Regions from separate parts of the Homo sapiens genome. Here region 1 is linked to region 2. Evidence: fine-mapped expression QTL. A gene starts in region 2. The other region holds a variant in brackets. All regions are shown on one strand. Distances are between the middles of the regions.

Region 1 (8,716 bases), 110 kb after region 2:
CCCCCCACCCCACGACAGGCCCCGGTGTGTGATGTTCCCCTTCCTGTGTCCAAGTGTTCTCATTGTTCAATTCCCACCTATGAGTGAGAACATGTGGTGTTTGGTTTTTTGTCCTTGTGATAGTTTGCTGAGAATGATGGTTTCCAGCTTCATCCATGTCCCTACAAAGGACATGAACTCATCCTTTTTTATGGCTGCATAGTATTCCATGGTGTATATGTGCCACATTTTCTTAATCCAGTCTATCATTGTTGGACATTTGGGTTGGTTCCAAGTCTTTGCTATTGTGAATAGTGCCACAATAAACATACGTATGCATGTGTCTTTACAGCAGCGTGATTTATAATCCTTTGGGTGTATACCCAGTAATGGGATGGCTGGGTCAAATGGTATTTCTAGTTTAGATCCCTGAGGAATCACCACACTGTCTTCCACAATGGTTGAACTAGTTTATAGTCCCACCAACAGTGTAAAAGTGTTCCTATTTCTCCATGTCCTCTCCAGCACCTGTTGTTTCCTGACTTTTTAATGATCACCATTCTAACTGGTATGAGATGGTATCTCATTGTGGTTTTGATTTGCATTTCTCTGATGGCCAGTGATGATGAGCATTTTTTCATGTGTCTTTTGGCTGCATAAATGTCTTCTTTTGAGAAGTGTCTGTTCATATCCTTCGCCCACTTATTGATGGGGTTGTTTCTTTCTTGTAAATTTGTTTGAGTTCTTTGTAGATTCTGGATATTAGCCCTTTGTCAGATGAGTAGGTTGCGAAAATTTTCTCCCATTCTGTAGGTTGCCTGTTCACTCTGATGGTAGTTTCTTTTGCTGTGCAGAGGATCTAATTAAACTAAAATTCTTATATTTTTCTATATTTGGCAAGAGATGTGCTTCCATACGTGGGACTTATTTAGTGATAAAAATGCATGTCCTTCAAATCTTACTATAGGTTCATTTTTGATTCCATAGTAATTTTGGATTCAAAATAACAAAAGTACCTAATGCAGCTTTACATTTATACAATTACCACATACATGAGAATGGCTATAATTGTGATTATGTGTCTTTATACAACCATGGTCTAGAACTTAATATTTGGCTCCTATTACCCCAAAACAACAAAAATTGAATAGCTTCCATAGTAATACAGAAGTAACATTTTAAAAATTATAAAATATACAAGATTTGGGGGTTAATGTGGCAGCAGATGCTATGCTGTACCCCAATACATCCTCTCCAAAATTCCCATAGAATACACCTGAAAATGTCCAAAAAAAAAAAAAAATTAAAAGGGGTTACAGGTCTAAAAACCAAGGGCAAAGAGGACAAGTTCCCAAAGTCTTAGTGGTGATTCTACTCACAGCTTGGTAGATCTTATCCAATAAAGAAGTACCTTTTAAATAAAACACCACAGGCCTCATTCTCTGAACCAGAATAAGATCTAAACCCCCCACACATAACAAGGAAAGATTTTCATTCATACTCCTCCTCATTGGGGTCTTCTAACTCTGAGACCCATAGCTTTTTGCTAAACAGAAGATCAAATTTAAAAAATCCTTGGTCATGCCCCAACTAGGCAGCAGCTTTATTACACATAAGCCAGTCTTGGAGCCTCCCAGTCCAATACTGCTCCTCCCCTAGCAGCACCTCTCATCTCCATCCATGCATAGGTTAGAACACCCAGGATGCAGCACTACATTCATAAATGTGACATTTAGCGGCTCAAGGAAAAGCACAGCAAGATGCAGAAAACCAGCGTGCTGGGAGGGCACACAATGGAAAGTCCAGGTGCCCTCCCTGGTCTCGGTTTTCCCATCTCTCTATGAGAAGAGGCGCTTCATGGAAACAGCCCATTCTAATACACATAATAAACAAAGAAACATATGACTATTTTTGCTCTAAACTTTCACAACTTCTCCGTGTATGTGTTCAAAATAGATACCGTTTTGGCCAAGAATAAATTACGATGCGTGACTTAAGACAGAAGTTTATACCATCCTTAATAATCATGTCCTCAAAAATAAAAAATATGGGAAAGCTCTCAGGATTTATGTTTAGTGAAAAAATAAGCAGCACCTAAAATGTATATAAAATATACAGTGTGATAGCAGTTATGCTCAACATTTATGTGTAGCCAGGCACCGTGACACATGCCTGCAGTCCCAGCTGCTTGGGAAGCTGGGCAGGAAGATCACATGAGGCAGAAGGATCACTTACGGCCAGGAGTTCGAGGCTATAATGTGTGATAATCACACCTATGAATAACCATCGCACTCCAGTCTGGGCAGTATAGTGAAAACCCATCTCTTAACAACAACAACAAAACATTTGTGTGTATATATATGTACATACATAGAAACATACACAGAGAAATGAAAGCACACTTGTCCCCTGTTTATTACCCTGAATTGAACATCCTTAATTTATTCTATAAAACAAGGCATAAGGAGCTATGCATAAAAGCTAATGGGGAAAATATCCTGGAATGTCTGTTCCCTAGAACTTAAAGTATAATTTAAAAAAAAGATATTCATCTAAAATATCTGTTCTCTATAATTGCCAAAAAAGCAAAACAACAACAACAACAACAACGGCAAATCTGAAGCTTTGGCTCTGATTTGGCTTCTTGTTTTCTCTCCTGATATCCTTATGAGCAAACTGCATGTGCCTCTGAGAGAAAAACACACACTAGTGAGCAGAATGTTGAGTACTGTGATCAAAGTATTATGGTAAAAATTTTTTTCATTTTGTATTGTTTTGAAAAGATTGATCTTTTCTAAAATGGACAGTGTATTAGTCTGTTCTTGCACCACTATAAAGAAATACCTGAAATTGGGTAATTTAAAAAGAAGAGAGGTTTAATTGGCTCACAGTTCCGCAGGCTCTACAGGAAGCATGGCTGGGGAGGCTTCAGGAAACTTACAATCACCATAGAAGGTGAAGGGGAAGCAGGCACATCTTACATGGCAGAGGAGGAAGGGAGTGAAAGAGGAGGTGCTACACACTTTTAAACAACCTGATCTTATGAGAACTCACTATCATGAGAATGGCAAGGGGGAAATCCACCCCCATATCCAGTCACCTCCCACCAGGCCCCTCCTCCAACACTGGGGATTACAATTCCACATGAGATTTGGGCGGGGACACAAATCCAGGCCATATCAGGCAGTTAAGCTCCAGTTCAAATCCTTACTGTAAATGTGTATTGAGAAAAGGTTAATTTTCAATAATATAAATATATATAAAATTGTATGTGTGTATATACATAACACACAAAGTAAACAATGTTGACAGAGATTCTCTGGTTTTAGTATTAGACATGCTTTCAAGTCTCAGTATCTTACACATGTTCTGTAATCAGAAAAAAGTTAATTTAAAATAAGAAACTACTCCAATATCTGTTACAGGTGCTTAGTAAATGGTAAATAACATATTTATGTCATGATACAGTCAAAGAAGTATATGGTCTTATGCTTTAGAAATAAGATAATCTTATTAGGTATCATATTACTATATTAAGGCTGAAAGAGCTAAATGAATTAAGAGTCCTCAGAAATAATGGAAAAATGGATAGTTCAATAGAATAATTCCTGGGAATTACTTTGTTTTGGTTGGAAAGACTATACAGTAAGGGAGGGCCTCTGCATGAGTATGCAGTCTGTGCATTACACAACTAGCAAGAACATCTTGAATGCATTGTCTACTTTAGATTGATTACAATCATTTTCTGGCAGATGACAA[T/C]AAAGTGACTTGAGACACAGGTGGAGTTTAGCCTGGAAGTGGTGCCACTGGGTGAGCTGGACCACTTAGGACTCTGCCATAAAAGGGGCTTAGAACAGTGTTTCTCACATCTTCACGTGCATACGATCATCTGGAGAGCTTGCCAAAATGCAAAGTGTGCTTCAGTAGGTTTGTGGTGAGGCCCAAGATGATGCATTTCTGACAAGCCCCTCGGGATGCTAATCCTGCTGCTCCTAGGACCACAGTTAGAGTAGCATGGGTTGGCTGAACTGGGCAAAACCCAGAAAGTGAAGCCTGCCAGCCCAAGATAACTGAATCTTTCAGTTTAATCTGTGCATATAATGGAAAGATAAAGTTAAATCTTTTGAATCATCTCCTAAAATATGACTAAAAAAAAGATGCAGTTTATCAGCTAAGATATTTGGCAGAGAGGTTAAAAATATATTTCTCAAGAAATGGACAAATGCAGAAACAAATGAACTCTGAATATGATCAATGATTTACTGATTCAGGAATTTTCTTTTATAAAGGACAAAAACAGTACAAGAGTTGGTAAATGGGATGTTAACGAAGGCCATTAGAAACTGGAGACTTTACACTTCTTCATTCAGAATACAAAATACTTGTAGCACACATCTCAGAAAGATTTGTTTTCATTACTGGCCAAATAATATGCCTGGTTTAGAGCAAAATAAAATACACACACTTGGAAATACTTAATTAGCTTCAGTAAAACCACTATATGTAAAGGAGGCTGGAGATTTAATATAACAAATAATGTAAAATATATTTGCATTATTTTACAAATGAATTTTCTTTAATAAAGAAATTAATATCTTTAATATTAAAGAATTAAATATTCTTCAATAAAAATTGAAGACTTTTATTTGTAAAATAATACAAATATATGAGCTACCTACTAGTCAGGTGGAAAGGAGCTGCAGCCTAATGCAGTGGGTAAAACAAGGAATTTGGTGTTAATTGCCCTAAATGCCAGGCTAGGCTTTACCACCAATGAGAAATATAACCTGGGACAAATTCCTTAATTTCTCTGGGCCTCACTTTCCTCAACAGTTTAGTGGGGACACAGTGTGGATGCACTTAAAACAGTACAAAACAATGGAGAAATGCCAGTTTTATTACTAACATATGAGGATTACTTTTGATATTTGTCACATTTGAATCAACAATCTATTTAGTCTTATTCTAAATGTATCTTCAAATAAGGACAGAAAAGAAGCTTCTGAATAGTGTGGAGTTGAGAATGGGGTATAGAGAGAAGAGGAAAGAAGCAGACTAGGCAAACTGAGCTTTGTCGAAGCAGAGTCAGAACTATTAATATGATGGATAAAACCAGGACAATCAAGGTGCATTCATTATCTACTTGTATATAACAAATACCACAAACTTAGTGGCTGGCTTAAAACAATACTCATTTCTTATCTCACAGTTTCAGTGGGTCATTCATCCAGGCACTGCCAGCCTTAGGGTTACTCACACATCTGTAATCAAGCCATTACTCAGGTCTGGGGTTCCATCTGAAGGCTAAACTGGAGAAGGATACACTTCCAAGCCCATGCTGCTGTTGTCAGCATTTGCCTCCCTGAGGGCTAGAGGAACTGAGGCCCTTTGTCCTTGCTGGCTGTGGGTTGGAGGCCATTCTCAGTTCCTTGCCATGTGGGCCACTCCAATATGGCGCATGCTTCATCAAAGCCAGCAAGAGAGAGTCTTCTAGCAAGATGAAAGTTGTAATTTTTTTAACCTCATTGTGGAAGTCACATTCTTTCAATGTTAATCTGTTTGATTGATTAGAAACTAATTAGTCAAGGGGTGAGAATTACATAGGCCATGATTACCAGGAGGTAGGGAACATTGGAGCTATTAGTTATTTACCACAAAAAGAGACTACTTTTATATCATCAGAAATGCTGTTATCTACCTGGGTTCAAAGCAAATGATGTAAGAGGAATATAGACTACAAAGCTATGAGATCCCCAGAGTATGCATTTAGAGAAAGAATAATGTGAAAAACTACTTTAAAGGAGAAATTTTTGAAAGCAAGAAAAGAAATCCAGTAAGGCTGCCTTCTCCAACAGAGTCTAACCCATCTTCAGGATCATGATTCTTGACTAAGAACTGCTGAGAAATGACTACACATAGCTCATGACTAAGAACTGCTGAGAAGTGACTTTTTTATTGTAATGTTTTAAACAGTAAGAAAAATGGTATGGTCATGTTGAGGTGGGAGATGTAATTCGGATCCCTGTCTGTCTGTCTATCTGTCTATCTAACTTTTTGAGATGGAGTCTTGCTCTGTCACTTCTTGCTCTGTCACGCAGGCTGAAGTGCAGTGGCACAATGTTGGCTCGCTGCAACCTCCACCTCTTGGGTTCAAGCGATTCTCCTGTGTTAGCTTCCCAAATAGTTGAGATTACAGATACGTGCCACCACACCCAGCTAATTTTTTTTTTTTTTTTTTGCATTTTTAGTAGAGACGGGGTTGTACCATGTTAGCCAGGATGGTCTCAAACTCCTGATCTCAAGTAATCTGTTTTTGTTTTGTTTTGTTTTGTTTTGTTTTTTGCATTTTTAGTACAGACGGGGTTTTATCACGTTAGCCAGGGTGGTCTCGAACTGACCTCAAGTAATCTGCCTGCCTCAGCCTCCCAAAGTGCTGGGATTACAGGCATGAGATACCGCGCCTGGCCTAATTCAGATCTTTAAAAGTACATATGTCTATGTTTAAATTGTAACTAAGGAAGAATGAAGATGTCAGGTAAAACCTGGCAGATTGAACATGTTTATGTCTGCTACTTTTGGAAACCCTAAATGACTGTAAAAACACTCAAGGCCAAAAAAGAATCTCAGTAAGAATGACAACAGATGATAGATATCAACATAATTATAGAGAAGAAAAGCATGTGCCAAAGCATAACCAGATGAAGATGTCAAAGAAAGCTGAAAGCTGGCCCAGGAGAGAAGGAAGCAACTCAGAGTCTATCTCATTATCTTTTTGGTGAGGGGTAATAACAACATCTAATGAATTCATGTTATATTCCAGTTACTTTTTAAGTGCCCTACATAAAATAACTTGTTTATTTCTTACAACAATACTGTGATGTAGGCATTATTATTACTCCCACTTTACATATGGGGAAGCTGAGGCAAAGTTAAGGAATTTGCCCCAGGTCACATAGCTGGTAAGTGGCAGAGCTGGGTTTAAACTCAGCTGGGGTCTGGAGTCTGAGCTCATTATTGCTATGCAATACACCTTACCTTTACAAAGGAAGGACAGAGTAGAAAGATTAAAATTAGTGATCTTTGATGGAGGCTGGATGTTTTAGAATGCCTGGTGCTATAAAATGTTGACCAATTTGTTCAATGAAGTGAACAAGGCAGGGTTGAACTGAACACTGCCGACAAGGTAAAAATAACTTCCAAGGAAAATAAATGAAATATATAAAGAATGAAGTTAACAAATGGTAAAATGAATGTTTTAAACCGAATAATTCATGTAGAAAAATTGTGAAAGCAGAGGGACATCACAGAGATTAAACTACTGAGAGAGAAGATACAGCCATAGTCATGAGAAAGAGTGGAAGCCAGGAACCAGTGTATTGGTCTTCCACCCTGATTGAACACCAGAACCAACTATAATGGTTTAAAATATATATAAGTCCAGGTTTTTCTTGTAGAAACTGATTCAGTAAATTGAGGGCAGAGACTGAATGATTTTTTTCTTAAGGTTAACAGGTGGTTTTAATTTGACAAGGACTAAGGGCTGCTAATACTAGTCCACAGCCCAGAAGCAAGCCACGTGTGGAATTGGGATAGCTAAAGCTCAGATTAAGGCTGGGGATGGAAAATGTCTAAGAACTACTACAGTGCAGCGAGAATTCTATTTCTAGAAAACTGCCCTACATAAACATCCATAAGAAATAGCAGAAATATATATGCAAGAATATTCACTAAAGCATTTTTTGCAAGACAAAAAACACTGAAAACATTCTCCACTAGTAGGGGACAGGTTCACTATGGTAATTAAAGTTACAGCCATTCAGTGGAAAACCATGCATTAAGGGAATTAAGCGGATCTGATTCTGTTGCTATGAAAACACCTTTAAGATAAATTGTTAAATAAAAAGAAAGCTGCAGAACAGTAATAGCATATGCTTCTGTTTGTATCTACATCAAAAGGAATATGTAGATGCACATTCAATAGACCATGAAGACTATCTCTGAATAGGTTGGCTGGGAATGAGAACGCAAGGGGCAAAAGGAGATTTTACTCTTTAAGTTATATGCTTTGGTATTTTTTTTTTTTTACAACAAATGTGTCACTTTTGTAATAAAGGAACGAAACAATGCATAAAAGGATTTCTGGTTAGGTCATTGCATAAATGCCTGGCTCTTAAAATGGGGAATGGAGGGTGTTTTCTACACACTGGGGATCAGAGAGCAAAGTGGAGAAAGTATCATATGTAATATCTATATGGTGACTTTATGTGGAGGTGGAAAGATACAGAAAACGACCCAAGGAGAAGCAAGAGAATCTTAAGAACTCCAGACCTCAACAAAGAAACAAAAATGCAGAAGAATTCACAGGAAAAGAGTTGAGGTATGGTATTTTGAGAAGAAACATGAAAAAATGATGATGAGACACAATATAGAATTAAATGATAGAGGCAAAAGCTTTTTTACAGCCAAGAACAGAATACACATAAAAAATGCATCACTCTTAGGCATACCCTGTCCCTGGGAGTGGCCCACCTCTTTAGCTTAGTATGGTGCCTCATCCGTTTAACAGATAGTCTTGCATAGACCATTCTCTGGTGAAAAACAAACAACGAAACCCACCTCTTTCTCTTTAGGGTCCAAAGATTCATGTCAGTAGTCCTCCTTCTCAACTTGGTTAAAGAAAATGTGCAAAACATATAGTACAACAGGTTCCAAAAACCACAAATTACACTAGAAATCT
Region 2 (8,716 bases):
GAATAGACATTGATTAAATAAAAAGAACCTCAATGAGTTCCTCATGTCACATGCAAAAATTTACTCAGAATGGAGTATAGGTCTAAGTTTAAAAGCTGAAACCATAAAACTTCTAAAAGAAATTATAGACAATGATCTTCACAATTATGGGGTAGGCAAAGCTTTTCAGGCCACACAAAGGACAAACTACAAAAAATGGAGAAACTGAACTTCATCAAAATTTTAAATTCAGTTACATGAAAGAGACCAAAGAATATATTGTCCAAGCACCATGGTTCATGCCTGTAACTCTAACACTTCAGGAGGCTGAGGTGGGAGGAACCCTTGAGCTCCGGAGTTTGAGGCTGCAGTGAGCCATGATTGCACCACTGTACTCTAGCCTGGGTGAGAGAGCAAGACCCTGACTCAAAAAAAAAAAAAAAAGAAATAATATATAATATATAATATATAAAGAACTCTCACAACTCAATAATAAGACCAATTGAAACTACCTTTGTAAAAATTATAACAGTGAGAAAATTATGACGCTGAGAGAAATCTAACCTGATTCCATCTAGCTTCTAAACTCCAAGCTGCCCTTGTTCATTCCTGGTCATAGGCTGAACTAACTTTGGAAGGAACTTAGTTTATAGTTTAACTTTGAAACAAAGATAACAGCCCTTTCCCAAAATCAACTCCCATCTTGCCTGGGGACCAGACTGCCTTTATAGGAGTAATATATTAGCCACAAGATTAGAAATTATGTTCTGGAGTCATACAGCCAGAGGCCACAAGATGCTGAACCTCCCCAATTGCTCCTAGGGATAAGATCACTATTGTAAAACCTAAGACTGGTGCTCGAGATATTTTCCAGACCCTGCATTCTGATCCACCAGCTAGCACCCAGACCAGTAATCTGGCTCTACCAGTTCTGCAATCCCACCCAGGAACAGAAGACAACAAGAAAAACCCACTTCGATCCCCTGTGATTTCATCTCTGACCTAACCAATCAGCACTCTCCAGTCCCTGGCCTCCTGTCTGCCAAATTATCCTTTAAAAACCCCGGTCTCAAAATTTTCAGGGAGACTGATTTGAGTAGTAAAACTCCAGTCTCCCATTCAGGTGGCTCTGAGTGAATTAAGCCCTCTCTACTGCAATTCCTTTACCTGGGCATGCAAAGGATAAACTCCTTGATAAATCACCTTTACTTGGGCAGCAGGCAAGGAGAACCCATTGGACAGTTACAAAATGGCCCTATTTTTAAAAATGGGCATAAGATTTTGCAAACATTTCACAAAAAGAAATTCACGAATGGCCAATAAACACATGAAAAAACACTTAACATTACTAGTCATTAGGAAAATGTGATTAAAACAATGAGATACCACTTTATACCCATTTCAGTGGCTCTGGTTTGGAGCAACTAGAAATCTCAGGCATTACTGATGGAAATGTAAAGTGGTACAGTCAGTTTGGAAAACAGCTGATGGTTTCTTATAAAGTTAAAAATACACTTACTATATGACACAGCAATCCCACCCCCAGGCATTTACCCAAGAGAAATGAGAACATATGTCCACACAAATACGTGGACACTAATACCCATAGCCATCTGATTTTTAATGGGCTAAAACAGAAACAACCCAAATGCCCATGGATACACATATTGGAGTACGTTTATATAATAGAATACTACTCAGCCATGAAAAGCATGGACTAATGATGTACAGCAACACAGATTGAATCTCAAAAAACGTTCAACTGACTTTTTAAAAAGCCATCAGATAACTTCATTTATATGGAATTCTAGAAAAGGCAATACTAATCTACAATGACAGAAAGGAGACCAATGGCTGTCTATGACCAGGGCTGGGGAGAGTGGTTACTGCAAAGGAAACCAGAATTCTTTGGGGTGAGGTCAATTCTCCATGTCTTAATGTGGTTATGGTTACATAGGAGGATACATTTGTCAAATTTATTAAACTGAAAAATAAAGTTAATTTTTTTTTAAAGGGAGACTGTTTCTCCTGTTTTGTTTTCCCCTTCACTTTTCAGAATTAAGCTGCAGTTAGCAGACTTTCCTGGTTACTTTGAATCAGGAACTCCTCAAAAAGTCTGTTGATGAAGGGAGAATCAGAATTAGGCATTTAGAGCAGCTTGATTTGACAACTAAATGTAGAAATTCCTAATAAAAAAAAAAACCACTTGAAATGTTGCCACATATGGAATGGGCTGGAGAAGATATCACTGAGGCATCATTGTTGTAGGGTGTTCTTTCTAGGGAAGGGAAGGGAGGTGAAGGACCATGAGCTCATCATTATCAAGGATTCTGAAACTTCAGTTCATTTTTATTAATAAATTACCTTCATGTGGCCAATGAATTGCCGGTCTGATTGGAAACTCTTTCCTGCACCGAAGAAACTGCACCAATTAGCAATATTCATCTGCCAATTCAGCTCTGCAGGTTCAGGCTCATTTAACTTGACAAAAATAGCTTCTTTTTCTTGAGTAGGGGAAGTTTTTCTCTGCCTCCAGCCCTAGTGATGGGCAGAGATGGTGGTGGAATCTTATTACAGCCTTCCTGTCCCTGATGTTCTTTATCCAGCCGCAGCGCCACAGGCTGCCCGTTTTTTTTTTTTTTTTGGATACCCATTTCACGACCTTCTTTGGTTTCTTTATCACAAAAGTCACTGTATGTCTTTTAGCTCAAAGCCCTACTGCAGTATTCTCTGTTTGTCTTTTTCCCTTTACTCTTAATATCTTATTTGTTCCTTCCCTTTTCCCCTTCTTCCCTTACCCCCTTTCATTCTTCCCTCTTTTTTTCTTTAATTCTTCACCAGCCCCTAGCATATTCTAAACTATTTGCCCCTTTCATGATGTAATGATGAACCGACCCCCGCCATAGTAATCAGGTGGGTTTTTTTTTCTTTGCAGTTTCCTTATACTGAAGTGGTACAACCCCACCCCCATTACCATCACCTCCACTTCATTTTAAATGTTCTACTCTTGTCCAAGATTGACTGGCCAGTTCTTCCTACCATTTCAGCCCATCATAAATTCGTAAATATGGATTCATTTGCTGAGCCTAAGTTTTCTGCATGAAAGTAAATCCCTTTTGTGATACCTACAAAAGTCACAGAATCATCAAACACAGTTCAAAAGAGCAAATGATAAATATTCATTGCATCATAATGATCTTGATTCTAAAAAGCAAATTATTTGCTATATAATAGGAACAGGCAGGTTAAAAACAATAATTAGAGTGTGAAAGAGGTAAGAGAAAGTTCTGAGAGTGATATAAAGTTTCATTACATTGACTGAAGATGGTTTCATGGAAGTATATTATGTAAAAACTCATCAATAATACACTTTAAATATGGATGGTTTATTTACATCAATTATGACTCAATAAAGCTGTAAAGCAAAGGAAATAAATAGTAAAAAACAAAGACAAACAAAAACATCAATGACTTAGGAATAATTAGCCAAGATATTCTTAAATGTAGGCTAGTGTATATGTAATTTTAGACTTGCTATTTATCAGCTGTATCCTTATTCTATGAAAATCTCATTTTACCTTAAAAAAATTAAGATGCGAGGACATACCTCTGAATGTTCAGTGGTCCTGGGATGCTCTCATGCAAGCTCGTTTCACTGTGAGCTGATGAATCAGCATAAAAGCTGAATAGTATCTCATGATCACACTCTGTTCTGCCAATAAGACAGTTTATTTTAACTTGCTGTTCCCATATTTTGAAAGAGACTGACTGCTGCAGAAATATACAAATCAGAGATATTATCAATCCTGAATTCCCAGTAACTTTATTTTTATTCTACTTTGCTACACAGGCTACTGGAGTTAATGTCCTATAGGTACTTGAGGATGCTGGGCACTTGGCAGGTATGCATGTTGGTCAATTCATTTGACAACATTTGTTTGCAAGGAAAATTTTCCTTAATGCGTCTTCAAATAGAAAAGTCTATGAGTAATCAAATGTGAGTGACAGAAGGGTAACCTTATTCCAGTAATGTCCCCTTTAAAAATTTTCCCCCTGAGCAACCATAAAGAATAAAAATAGTGATAATTATCAGTTCTCTATTTTTGCTGTGGAAGCTGGGGAGTTATGAAACAAATATACAGCTCAGTTTATCAGGACATTAAAAAATGCATTATGCATGTTATTCTTACCCTAGTGACAAGTTATTTTTTTAACCATTGTTTTTTCTCTGACCTGATCTGATCCTTTTTCTCTTTCTTTCTTTCTTTTTCTTTCTTTTCTTTTCTTTCTTTCTTTCTTTTTCTTTCTTTCTTTCTCTCTCTCTTTCTTTCTTTCTTTCTTTCTTTCTTTCTTTCTTTCTTTCTTTCTTTCTTTCCTTCCCTCCTTCCTTTTTTCTTTCTTTCTCTCTCTCCCTTCCTTCCTTTTTCTTTCTCTCTCTCTCCCTCTCTCTCTTTCCCTTTCTCTTTCTTTCCTTCCTTCCTTCTCTTTCTTTCTTTCTTTCTTTCTTTCTTTCTTTCTTTCTTTCTTTCTTTCTTTCTTTCTTTCTTTCTTCCCTTCTTTCTTTCTATCTTTTGTATCACAGAAAGCTTCCTCCAATCCTTTTTCTAACAAGGTAGGGTGCAAACAAAGGAATAACAAACTTCCTTTAGATATGAGAAATGTGGATCTTTTAAAGTGTTATTTTTGAGAGTCTTAAGGCAACATTAGGATAATAACATAACATGAAAACTGTGGAGATAAATTTTGATCTCATGTGAGCCCCAGGGTGGCTTTTATTTACAAATCATGTTTACTTCTCAGAGGGGTGGGCAGACATAAGCCGGTGTTTTAGAGAGTCTGAGGTGAAAGCTTTTCTCTCCCCAACAATGGCATATTTGTAGTAGAATTTTCTCATAAGAGTCTTGGTGAACAAAAATACACAGGGATAGAAGGTGGAATGGAAGGAAGTCCATTTCAGAAGGAAATAATCCCAACATAACTTTCAAGATATAACAATAGGTTATTAACTGGTGGATTTGGCAGGGAAAATTCTGCTACATCATTTTTTCTTTTTCTTCTTCTTCCTTTCTTTTTAAATTTATTTTATTTTTTTATTTTTAGAGACAGAGCCTAGCTCTGTTGCCCAGGCTGCAGTGTAGTAGCACAATCATAGCTCACTGCAGCCTTCGACTCCTGGGTTCTAGAGATCCTCCTGCTTCACCCTCCCAAGAGCTGGGACTGTAGGTGTGCACCACCATGCTCAGCTAATTTTTTATTTTTTGTACAGACAGAGATCAGCCTCTATTGCCCAGGATGATCTTAAACACCTGGCTTCAAGTAATCGTCCCACCTCAGCCTCCCTAAGTGCTGGGATTATGGACATGAGCTACTGTGTCCAGCATGAAATCATTTATGATGTGTTGACCATTTTTCAACTGGATATGAAGGCAGTATAGACACACAACTGTGAATTTATCAAGACCTGTGCTTTGTTTACTTAGTTTCTTTATATAGGAATTTTCAAACAAATGTAAATTGGAGGCATGTACACTGCAGTAGGTAATGGCTGTATCAGTCAACACTTAGCCTTAGTTGTCACCACAATGTTTTACCCCAGTACCATGCCTATCCTCGTGGGCCAAAAACACAGATAGAGTCTAGAAGAATGCACAAAGCAGCTTTTCACCAAGGGTTAAGTTTCCATTCTACTTGCTAACCCACAGAGAACGCATAGAAGGTGGAGATTAGAGAGTGACTTCTACACTCCATTCAGCAGATTCCAGGTTTCTCGATGGCCATGAAGAGTCTTCGATCTAGAGCCTCAAGGTTACTAAATTGCCACTTTTCAAGGTTCCTATTCTTGCTTTCTCCTCCATGCTGCAGTCTTTAATTCCTTTGGTCTTCCCAGTTTTTCCCAGATTCTGCCCATTTGGTCTCTGGAAGGGGTTGTCAGTCACTCAGCTCCATGGGTTTTAATGCTAGGTGGAGTCATAGTGAAGTTTCTATAACATAATCAGACTTATTATTCCAAGGCCAAGACTGATCTACTTTTATCAGTTAGAACTCCTTAGATTGCAAGTGACAGAAAGCCCAAGCCAAGGGACTTGGGTCAAGTTTGTCCTCAAGCACTCGCTTGTCCTTTCAGCTTCTAGTATGTCCTTGCCCTCATCTACTCAGGCTTTCCTACCAATTGCTGGCTGGCTATTCTATAGTGACTTCAGGTTCAACATCAGACACAGAGACAACAGCCTTGCACAGACTTCTCCACCAGCAACATAGTTTTGTAAAAATCTAACCCCTATAACAAATCCTTTAATCTATATTACTTCTAGTGGTTCTACTTCGCTGACTAATAATATGCCTTCACATAATACATTCCAAGGTCTTGGAAAAGTCTATGCACATTGCATTCGTCTGTTCTTGCACTGCCATAAAGAAATACCTGAGACTGAGTAATTTATAAAGAAAAGATGTTTAATTGACTCACAGTTCTGTAGGTTATACAGGAAGTATGGCAGCATCTGCTTCTTGGGAGGCCTTAGGAAACTTACGATTATGGCAGAAGGTGAAGGGGAAGCAGGCACATCTTACATGGCCAGAGCAGGAGCAAGAAGAGGTGGAGTGGCAGGCTAGGCAGGTGACACAGAATTTTAAACAACCAGATCTTGTGAGAACTCTGTCATGAGAACAGCACCCAAGGGATGGTGCCAAACCATATATGAAGGATCCACCCCCATGATCCAGTCACCTTCCACCAGGCCCCACCTCCAACACTGGGGATTATAGGGACACAAGATTTGGTGGGGACACAGATACAAACCATATCACACATATACTCTGTCTGCCACTCTCTTGATTAAAAATTGCAACCTAGTTTAGACAGTCGGTCTTAGTAATAGTGAGTATTCTCTTTTTATATTTTATTGAAATCATTAGACAAATAATTATAAAGCTTGAGTCACTATTTAATATGTCATGAGCATTATTCATGCCTTTGCACAGTCTTTATAACCATAATTTTAAAAAGGCTTGACAATATTTGAGTGGATGCTCTGTAATTTCATTTTTCACTTTTCTATTGTTGGCGCTGTAGGTTTTTTCCAATACTTTACGGTTATGAATAATGATCCGAGGTGCTGCTTCATGCATATAATTTTTCCATATTTTTGGAACATTTGGTTAGTCTATAATTTCATAAATAGAGCATAAAGGTGTGTAAAAGGTATGAACCTTTGTATTGCTTTTGATTCATATTGTTTAATTGCTTTCAAAAGGACTAGGACAATTACAATCCCATTAGTAATTGGTAATACCCTTGCCAGCTTTGATTGTCCAGCTTGGACTGAGTTGTACATTCACCTGACTGTGATGAAGCAGCTGGTCCTGCAGCTCGAGCAGTGGAGTTTCCGAGTCTATGGAGTTTTTCTTGTTGATCCTCAGTTCATGGTGGAGTCATTCAAGTGTATTTCTGGCATCTTGGCAGTCCTGAGTGCCATGCTCTCTCTATAAATTCCGCAAGTTAACATCGTGATCAAAATGTAGCTGCAGAGTAAAAAAGCTAAAAAGGAAACTGTAAGTTTCTAGATCTAGACATGGATTCCTTATTTGATGATTCTACAAGTGGCTTAAGAAGCAAAGAATTCAAAAAAGTAACTAAAGTTGTATGTGGGCTGATGACTGCAGCATAGTTCTCTTCTTACCTTATGATCAGTCAGATGAAGAAAGTATGAACATTGTATTATAGCATATTGATTTAGCCATTCAATGTGGAGAAGATTCAACATTTAAATAACCAAAGGAATATGAAAATGAATCTTCTTCTATGTTTGAGGAATATTTTCAAGAACACCAGGATGAATGAAGAGTTTACTAAGGAGTAACTGTCTATACGTGAAGAGCTTGTGGCCAAACCGGCAGAATATTCTTCTCTTCGAAGAATGCAGTAGTAGAAAGCTGCATATTCTAATGAAAAAAAAGGTACATGTTTTTTTTTTTTTTTTATCAGCAGCATGCCTGAATCAAGTTTTGAATTATTCTGAAACTGCTGCTGCTTCACGTGGAAACTTGTAGTATTATTTTGATCGTATCAATTTAAATTTAAAAGTCAAAATTGAAATGAATGCACATAGAATTGTATATAAATTAGCACCTCTGCAACAGTTAATAAGGCTAATACAATCTCATTTTTACTGTTTGTATTGTTTTTGAGGTGCAGGAATTATTGTAACAAAATATACATGTCTATCCAGAGGGAAATATCTGGAAGGATATAGGTAAGACCACTGCCCATCTATATCTTACCATTTCCCTACATTGAAAATGTATTATTTATATAATTAAAAAATTTAAAAGGGAATATAATTTTAAGGTCTTTCCTGATTTAACAGAAAAAAGTACCTATTCAATTTAAAAGGCATTCTACATTGCTCATTTTATGCTAATATCTATTTTCTGCTTTACAATATCTAGAAAGTATCAATATCTTTACTGATCCAGAGTACACCTGAAATATTGGAAAGACACTTTCCCTGGACATTAATTTCTGAGTGGTGAATGCAATCTGCCAAAAATATAAGGATTTGAGCACATATTTTCTAATTAAACTAGGATACTTATTGGATCGTTTTTGTAATTGGAAAGGTTAAGAGAATCATCAGTGGAGAGAATGCGGAGGCTATAAAAACACTGCAATTAATAACTTATCTGTTTAAATTTTAGGTAATAGCACTTTTGCTCTTCATAATAGCATCTTCAGGGA

Evidence for each region. PIP is the estimated chance that this variant, and not a neighbour inherited with it, causes the effect.
Region 1: its variant is the best candidate, but not a certain one, in a credible set for the expression of LINC00836 in cerebellar hemisphere (GTEx, PIP 0.53).

What each region holds. Positions count from the first base shown.
Region 1 is chr10:25,532,088-25,540,803 of GRCh38, reverse strand. All of the region lies in intron 5 of GPR158 (G protein-coupled receptor 158), which reads right to left. Among named protein-coding and RNA genes, the nearest start is that of LINC00836, 120 kb to the left of the region's middle. The variant T/C (reference allele first, on the strand shown) is at 3,739.
Region 2 is chr10:25,646,670-25,655,385 of GRCh38, reverse strand. LINC00836 (long intergenic non-protein coding RNA 836) reads right to left here and starts at 3,674. Exons shown (of 3, transcript NR_108068.1): 1 at 3,587-3,674. It also overlaps the pseudogene GPN3P1.